Homo sapiens: one gene and its partner. The protein of the gene in region 1 interacts with the protein of each later gene in a pairwise test. Each region holds a gene or a part of one and is shown in the gene's direction. Other genes may lie near its edges.

The links.
Region 2: the proteins of PRKCD (region 1) and IL32 interact in binary tests that used the Homo sapiens proteins (3 or more experiments, as listed by UniProt).

The regions. Positions count from the first base shown.
Region 1 is NC_000003.12:53,185,166-53,188,968, forward strand, and holds part of PRKCD (protein kinase C delta type), read left to right. Parts: intron 1-438; coding exon 439-535; intron 536-761; coding exon 762-862; intron 863-1,001; coding exon 1,002-1,175; intron 1,176-1,438; coding exon 1,439-1,530; intron 1,531-2,174; coding exon 2,175-2,237; intron 2,238-3,554; coding exon 3,555-3,693; intron 3,694-3,803.
Region 2 is NC_000016.10:3,063,841-3,068,439, forward strand, and holds the start of IL32 (interleukin-32), read left to right. Parts: upstream 1-1,799; 5' UTR 1,800-1,847; exon of another isoform or gene 1,848-1,943; 5' UTR 1,944-1,971; coding exon 1,972-1,986; intron 1,987-3,536; coding exon 3,537-3,575; coding exon of another isoform or gene 3,576-3,713; coding exon 3,714-3,773; intron 3,774-4,143; coding exon 4,144-4,170; intron 4,171-4,339; coding exon 4,340-4,399; intron 4,400-4,599.

The DNA.
Region 1 (3,803 bases):
AGGCAGTTCTTTACTTGAGGGTGAACCTGGGGACCACAGGAGTGGGTGTTGGAACACTTTGAACTAAGACTTTGGGTGTGGACGTTTGTATGTGGGGGGGGCTTGAGGGATGCCACAAAACCTAAAGGTAAAATTTTAGAATCAATCAGAAATGAAGCTAAATAGTCAAATAAAATCTATCGAGTGAGTGGTTGGGAAGGTAGGGTTCCGTTTACAAAACTTCTGTTTGTAATCAGAGCCTTTCAGACCACCAAGGCTTCTCTGGGCTCCTGGAAGAGTGCGTGTGTGTACACGCAGCCCGAGTAGGGGGCCTGGGCTGTGCCCCTGTTGTCTCCTCTTGGTGTTAAGGGTGGAGTTATACCTGGGAGTCTTCCTTCTGGGCTGGGAGTTCTGATAATGGTCTGACCATCTGGCCCCCCACCTCTGCTCCCTCCCCAGAGAGCCTCCCGGAGATCAGACTCAGCCTCCTCAGAGCCTGTTGGGATATATCAGGGTTTCGAGAAGAAGACCGGAGTTGCTGGGGAGGACATGCAAGGTGAAGCTGGGTCCATTGCCCCATTACGGTTTTTATTCCCCCTGAGGCCAAAGAAAGGGGACTGTCCTCCCTTCCATTGTCAAGTGAGACATGGAAGGAACCACCGGTCCTGGGGAGCGAGCCCCTTCCTCTCTGAGGCCCCTTCCCCCAGCCTACCCCAGGCCCCGGGGGAGGGGAGTTGTGTAGACTGAGACCCCGATCTGAGGAGGTGCCATCTCTCGGGCAGACAACAGTGGGACCTACGGCAAGATCTGGGAGGGCAGCAGCAAGTGCAACATCAACAACTTCATCTTCCACAAGGTCCTGGGCAAAGGCAGCTTCGGGAAGGTGAGGGCTGTGAGCCGGGCACCTGCTTCCCACCCCACCCTGGCTTCTTCCCGCTTAGGTGGCTGAGGTGGGAGTCTGTGAATCGGGCTGTGGCCCCTGCCCCGTCCTCACCTGCTCAGCACCCGTGTCTCCCCATCAGGTGCTGCTTGGAGAGCTGAAGGGCAGAGGAGAGTACTTTGCCATCAAGGCCCTCAAGAAGGATGTGGTCCTGATCGACGACGACGTGGAGTGCACCATGGTTGAGAAGCGGGTGCTGACACTTGCCGCAGAGAATCCCTTTCTCACCCACCTCATCTGCACCTTCCAGACCAAGGTGCCCGGGCCTCCTGCCGTCACCACCCCATGCCACAGCCATGTCCCACAGCTCCTCAGCCCCCCTCAGTCAGGGCTGTGTCTCCCCTTCAGGCCACTTAAGGCAGGGCCATGCTTTCCCCCCTCATGCCTCCCAGGGCAGAGTCGTCCACCTCAGCCAGGGCCTGTCCCTGCTGTTTCCTGTTGGGGCTTGGCCCCAGTGGCCCTCAGTGAGGGAGCCTCCTGCCTATTCCTCACCCCTGCTCACCACCCTTCCCACCCCAGGACCACCTGTTCTTTGTGATGGAGTTCCTCAACGGGGGGGACCTGATGTACCACATCCAGGACAAAGGCCGCTTTGAACTCTACCGTGCCACGTACGTAAGGGCCATGGTGGGGAAGGGCCCAGTGTGGAGGAAGGGCTACTGGCTCAGAGCCCACTTCCAGTCTGCCCTCCATGCCTTCTTCCCTCTCCCTAGAAAAGCCAGCCTGGGCTAGAGCGGCAACTGGGGAGATGTGGGGGTAGCCTGGGTCGGCACCACACAGGAAGCCATGGGTGGCAAGTGAACTGCGGCTGGGTGCGCAGCGCAAATACTCTGGGTCCTGGCCGCTCCGTGGGCCACAGCCAGGGCAGCCTTGCAAATGGTGGTCCTGCATGACACAGGACACAGGACCCTGGTGCGTGGCCCCCAGACCTGCTTCTCCCCATTCACATGCCCCTTACCCCAAACTAACCGTGTATGTGTGTGTGTGTGTGTGCATGCATGCAAACACATATGTACATGCATGTAAATGCATACACTCTTAGAGAATTGGCTCACTGAGAGCTTTCCCTTCAGAACTTTCTGCCTGGGCTGCCAGCCCCCACTTGCCTGATACAAGATGTACTTGATCATGCTCAGGTGGTCCATGGAGTTATTTGCAGCATTTCTTGCTCCTGGAAGTGGGGTTGAGGGCCCGAGGAGAAGCAGAGGCTGCTCGGCAGAGATCCCGGAACACTTTATCCCTCTCTCTTGCCCAGGTTTTATGCCGCTGAGATAATGTGTGGACTGCAGTTTCTACACAGCAAGGGCATCATTTACAGGTGCGGGGGTGAGGGCAGCGGGGGCTCTTGGGAGGGGAGGCTCCAGCCCCATCATATCTTCTGAAATGCTCCAAGCAGGATCCCCCCAACTCCAGTTCCTTCTCTGCTGGAAATCAATCTTTAGCTGGGTATTTGCCTATGCCTCCCACCCTGGTGTTAGCATTCCTGTGGCCACCATTTGAGGCTGGCTCAGCTTCAGGAACTAGGAACTCACTGCTCATATTTGACACCATCGCCCCACCCATCCTTGGAGCCGTCAGTCTCGCTCTGAAGCCCCATCGAGTCATCTAAGCTTCTGCCAGAAGGGACTCCTTCCATAAAGTCTCATCTAATAAGTTATGATTCCATCCTATGGTGGGAACTGTACACCCACCAAAAAGGCTGAGGTCAGGCTCTGTATACTGATGTGGGATAATGCCAAGATATGTTGTTAAGTGGAAAAACAACCTGTGGGAAAGTGTATATCGAATATTAGCATTCAGCCTTTAAAACGTGGGAGGGAGACTGAGCGCGATGGCTCACGCCTGTAATCCCAGCACTTTGGGAGGCCAAGGTGGGCAGATCACCCGAGGTCAGGAGTTCGAGACCAGCCTGACCAACATGGTGAAACCCTGTCTCTACTAAAAAATACAAAAGTTAGCTGGGCATGGTGGTGGATGCCTGTAATCTCAGCTACTCAGGAGGCTGAGGCAGGAGAATTGCTTGAACCCGGGAGGCGGAGGTTGCAGTGAGCTGAGATCATGCCACTGCACTCCAGCCTGTGTGACAGAATGAGACTGTGTCTCAAAAAAAAAAAAAAAAAAAAAAAAAAAGGTGGGAGCGAGCTGCATGCTGCCATATGCTTGTCCACGCCTAGAATTGCTCTAAGGAGAGCCTCATGATTGAGCTCAGTGGAAGGTAGACTTTGTACTGTTTGCCATTTCTAGTTCCCATATGCATTAAGTATATACTCAAATGACTAATTACTAAATATAGACATGGTCTCTGCCTGTGGGAAGTAGACAAACCTGAACCTGGGGGTCACTTCTGCTGCTGACTGCTAGGGGACCCTGGGCGAGTGACATCACCTGTTTGAGCCCCATTTGGGCTTCAGGAAGTAGGGCAGTGTATGCCCAGCGTTTAGCACACAGTAGGGGACTTGCAAGAAGCACCTGTTTTTAGGATCTCTTTCTCCTTCTGCTTCCTTTTCTGTTTCTCATTCCCTTGTACCCTTGGGGACAGTCCTGGACTAATACGGCTGAAAATTAGGACATGGGGGGCAGGGTTGGAAGGAGAAGAAATGTCCCCTGCTGACTCTTACCTGTCCCCTGTCCTTAGGGACCTCAAACTGGACAATGTGCTGCTGGACCGGGATGGCCACATCAAGATTGCCGACTTTGGGATGTGCAAAGAGAACATATTCGGGGAGAGCCGGGCCAGCACCTTCTGCGGCACCCCTGACTATATCGCCCCTGAGGTGAGCCGATACCCTTCCAGCCCCCCGCTCAGTCAGGCACCTTGCCTCCCCACGGTGGGCCAGGGAAGGATTCCCAAGGGCAGTGATGTCCAAGCCAAAGCCCATAGGCT
Region 2 (4,599 bases), on another chromosome or scaffold:
CCCAAGATGTCTTCAGATGGTGGCCTTTGAGAGTCATGAGGGGCTAGGGTTGGAGCTGAAGCCTAAAGCATGACTTTTAGCTGGTGCAGGAGTGGCTTCCTTCTGTCTCCCACTACAATTCAGAGGATACTCAGGGAAAGATCTGGACATCCTGTATGTGGAAAGGCGGTTGCGCACAGTGGAATGGACTCCTAAGTGGCAGGCAGGTGACAACCGTTGTCTACTTCACCCAAGGGAAGATTTCTCCATGGAGCGTGTTTTATAGGTTCTGTCTCTCCGAGTCCCCTTTGAGAATATAATGGGATACATTGCATCCATGCTGAATTCCTAAGCCCCAGGACCTCAGAATATGCCCTTATTTGGAAACAGGGTCTTTATGGAGGTACTTAAGGTACAATGAGGTCACTGGGGTGGATCCTACTTCTTTTTTTTTTTTTTCCGAGGGGAATTTTCATTGTTGTCCCCCAGACTGGAGTGCAGTGGCACCATCTCAGCTCACTGCAACATTCGCCTCCCGGGTTCAAGTGATTCTCCTGCCTCAGCCTCCCGAGTAGCTGGGAATACAGGTGCCGGCCACCACGCAAGGCTAATTTTTGTATTTTTAGTAGAGACAAGGTTTCACCATGTTGGCCAGGCTGGTCTAGAACTCCTGACCTTAGGTGATCTGCCCGCCTCGGCCTCCCAAAGTGTTGGGATTACAGGCGTGACCCACTGCGCCCGGCCTAGGGTGGACCCTATTTCAATATGACTGGTGTCCTTTGGAAAGGGGAAAGGGGGACAGTCACACCCAGGCAGAACGTGATGAAGATGAAGATGGCCATCTACAAGGGCAGGAGAAACCTGAACAGAATCCCAGCTCCGGGCCCTCAGAAGGACCCCACGCTGCCCACATTGACCTTGGACCTCCAGCCTGCAGATCGTGAGGGAAGAGACGTCTTCGACTTAGGGCCCCTTGTCGTGGTACTTCCTTAGTTTGGCCCCAGGAAACCATCCCAAAGGCAAGGGCGTGGTTGTGCTCAGCTGGGGGAAGGGGGCTGGGGGCCGTGAGGAGGAGGTGGGAGGCCCAGCCAGGCTGGAGGGTCAGAACCCGTGGAGCTAGAAGAGCCCGTAGGGGAGCCCCAAGATTGCTGAGACCAGTGACCTTCGGCCCCAGATGGCCTTGCCTTGGCCCAGAAGGGTCAGAAGGACCTGGTCAGCCAAGCTCAGACAGCCGGCAGGATGCCTTCCACCCTGCAGAGGGTCCTATCTTGTCCCACAGGTAGATCTACATCACCACTAGCCACCCCTCCAACGTGCACAGGCCCCTGCCCTCACGGCGCCCCTCTTAGGTCCGGCAGTTCCTGCCTCCTTCTGATCCAGAAGTTTCTCTGGCCTCTGGAGCCGGGGCACACCTCATGCAAGGACAGGGTCCAAATTCCTTTGTCCTTGGATCCCACTTGGCTGACGTCACCTTCCTGTACTCAGGGAGTTTCCCCAGCCAGCTGTCCCGAGTCTGGACTTTCCCTCTGCCCCTCCCCACTCTCAGGCTGGTGGGGTGGGGAAAGCAGCCCATTCCTGGGCTCAGAGACTCCCACCCCAGCTCAGAGGGAGCAGGGGCCCAGCCAGGGACGGACCCTCATTCCTCCCAGGGACCCCAGACCTCTGTCTCTCTCGGGTAAGTCTCCATCTCTGTCTGTCTCTGTCTCTGTCTCTGTCTCTGTCTGTTTTTCACGCACTCAGCAAGGCCTCCTGCCCTGAGAGAGGCTCCGCCCACTACCCCCCACTTTCCCCATAAAACCAGCTGAGTATTTGTGCCAGGAAGACTGCGTGCAGAAGGTGACTGTCTCAGTGGAGCTGGGTCATCTCAGGTGGGGAGTTGGGGTCCCCGAAGGTGAGGACCCTCTGGGGAGGAGGGTGCTTCTCTGAGACACTTTCTTTTCCTCACACCTGTTCCTCGCCAGCAGGCCTTGGCTCCTTGAACTTTTGGCCGCCATGTGCTTCCCGAAGGTGAGTGAGAGGCTGCGTGTGCTTTTGTGGGCATGTCTGAAAACAGACCGTAAGGGTGCGGGTGCCCTCAGTATTTCCCGAGGTGCCTGTGTGTCAGGGCTCAGTCAGGGGCACCCAGCGGCAGGAGGATAGTGATGGGGTGAGAGTGTCAGTGGAGGCGCTGGAGGTCATATGTGTCGGGGGCGCTGGAGAACGGCAGGGGTGTGGATGAGAGGGAGCACCTGTCCCAGGAGCCCTTCACAGCCCGGAAAGCCCGGGGCAGGGGTGGGGCAGGGCTCTGCTGGAAACGACTCGGAGAATGCTTCTCTCAGAGGCCGGCTCAGCTGGGTGGGCCCAAGAGCAAGGCCTGTGTGGGTCCTGGTGTCTCTTCCTCCTTTCCTGGGTTCCCTCCGACCTCCCATCCTCTACCACTGCCCCACCGCAAATGCTAGGCCCACCACACCCTCCAGGGAGCTCTTCGGCCTGTGACAATAGGGGTTTCCATGATGTGGCCTGGCTCAGGTTCAGGACAGTGACCCGGAGGACACATGGCTCCCGCATGTCGGCACGGTGCTGCTTTCACCCTGGTTCCTGGGAAATCAGGCTAGCGGGATGGGACCATCGCTGCCTGAAAGTGTGCAGACAGCTGCCCTGCCCAGAATATGTCCCCAGGCCCTGCGCACTCTGTGGGTGACTGTCACCACTCTATAGTGGGGGAAACCAGGCATGTCACCCCCGAGACTAGGCCCTTGACGTGGGGGCTCAGCGGGGATTCTGTGGGGTGCCTCTGGCCTCTGTGGATGCAGCCACGTGTCTGCAGGCAGGAATGGCCCGGGACCTGTGGGTCTGCATGTTGGCAGTCGGGAAGAGTGGCAGGTTGTAGGGTGGACCTACCTGGCACCCCAAATATTAATCAGCTCATCAGAGAGGAATGGCTGCTGTTACCTTCTCAATTGTCATGTCCCTAAACATTTTTTCCTTGGCCAACTCTCACCTGGGACCATAGTGGTTGTGGGAAACCCAGCTGAGCCAGCCTGCTCCAGGACAGTGTCCATCCTCCCGTGTGTGTACATGGGGGGGTGTGTGTGTGCAGGGAGGACACCCCGGCCCACGCAGGCCCTGCTCTTGTGAGGAGGGGTCACCTAGGCCCACGCAGGCCCTGCTCTTGTGAGGAGGGGTCACCTAGGCCCACGCAGGCCCTGCTCTTGTGAGGAGGGGTCACCTAGGCCCACGCAGGCCCTGCTCTTGTGAGGAGGGGTCACCTAGGCCCACGCAGGCCCTGCTCTTGTGAGGAGGGGTCACCTAGGCCCATGCTGGCCCTGCTCTTGGGCCTGCCCAGCTGAGCCGGCTCCTGAGAGAAGCGCTTTCTGAGTCGTTTCGAGGACAGCCCTGGCCGGTCTTTCCAGGCTGTGAGGGGCTCCTGGGACTGCTGTCTCCTCTTATCCTGTACCTCTGCCATGTGTCTCTGTGTGTGTGTGTGTGTGTGTGTGTGTGTGTGTGTGTGTATAAATTATCCTGGAGGAAAGGTTAAGGTGACACATGGAGACTGAGTGTCACCGTTATTTCCGCAGGTCCTCTCTGATGACATGAAGAAGCTGAAGGCCCGAATGGTAATGCTCCTCCCTACTTCTGCTCAGGGGTTGGGGGCCTGGGTCTCAGCGTGTGACACTGAGGACACTGTGGGACACCTGGGACCCTGGAGGGACAAGGATCCGGCCCTTTGGTGCCAACTCTGCCTCTCTTCACAGCACCAGGCCATAGAAAGATTTTATGATAAAATGCAAAATGCAGAATCAGGACGTGGACAGGTGGGTGGATTTCCCCTCAGGCACCAGGTCACATGTCCCCGCCCCCAGGCACTCCACCCTGTGTGGGGCTCAGGGTGAGAAGGATGAAGAGGGACCCACAGGCTCCCTCACCCCTTACCGTGGGCAAATGCTTGCACCTGGGTGGCAGTGAGTGGGCGGGTGGGGGATCTGGACGCCCGGGGAGACTGAGGGAGGCATCCAAGCCCCAGGGCTCCTTGAGGAAACAACAGGGGTGCCAGACGTGGCCCGGGCCCCTGGCTGGGCCCAGTTCGGGGTGTGTGGGAGCTGAGGACTCACTGGGCTTGAGGACTGACTGATGTGGGGTGCAGAGGAGGCTTGGGCCTGGAACCGAGTGCTTTGTTCCTAACAGGTGATGTCGAGCCTGGCAGAGCTGGAGGTGAGCCGTGGCCTCCCCCTCCACCAAGCTTAGTCCCTGGGTCTTAGGCTCCACAGGACACTGGGTCTGGGCCCCGGGTCCCCTTGGGAATCACCTGGACCAGTGGGGGCCACAGTGGGAAGGGGGCAGGCAGGAGCAGCATGAACCCCCTGTGCCCTCCTCTCCCCAGGACGACTTCAAAGAGGGCTACCTGGAGACAGTGGCGGCTTATTATGAGGAGCAGCACCCAGTGAGTATGACACACCCATCTGGGCACCTTGCCTTCCTTCACCTCTGCCCTGTCTTTTCTTTCTTTCTTTCTTTTTGTTTATTTGAGACAGAGTCTCGCTCTGTCGCCCAGGCTGGAGTGCAGTGGCATGATCTTGGCTCACTGCAACCTCCAAATCTCGGGTTTAAGTGATTCTCCTGCCTCAGCCTGACAAGTAGTTG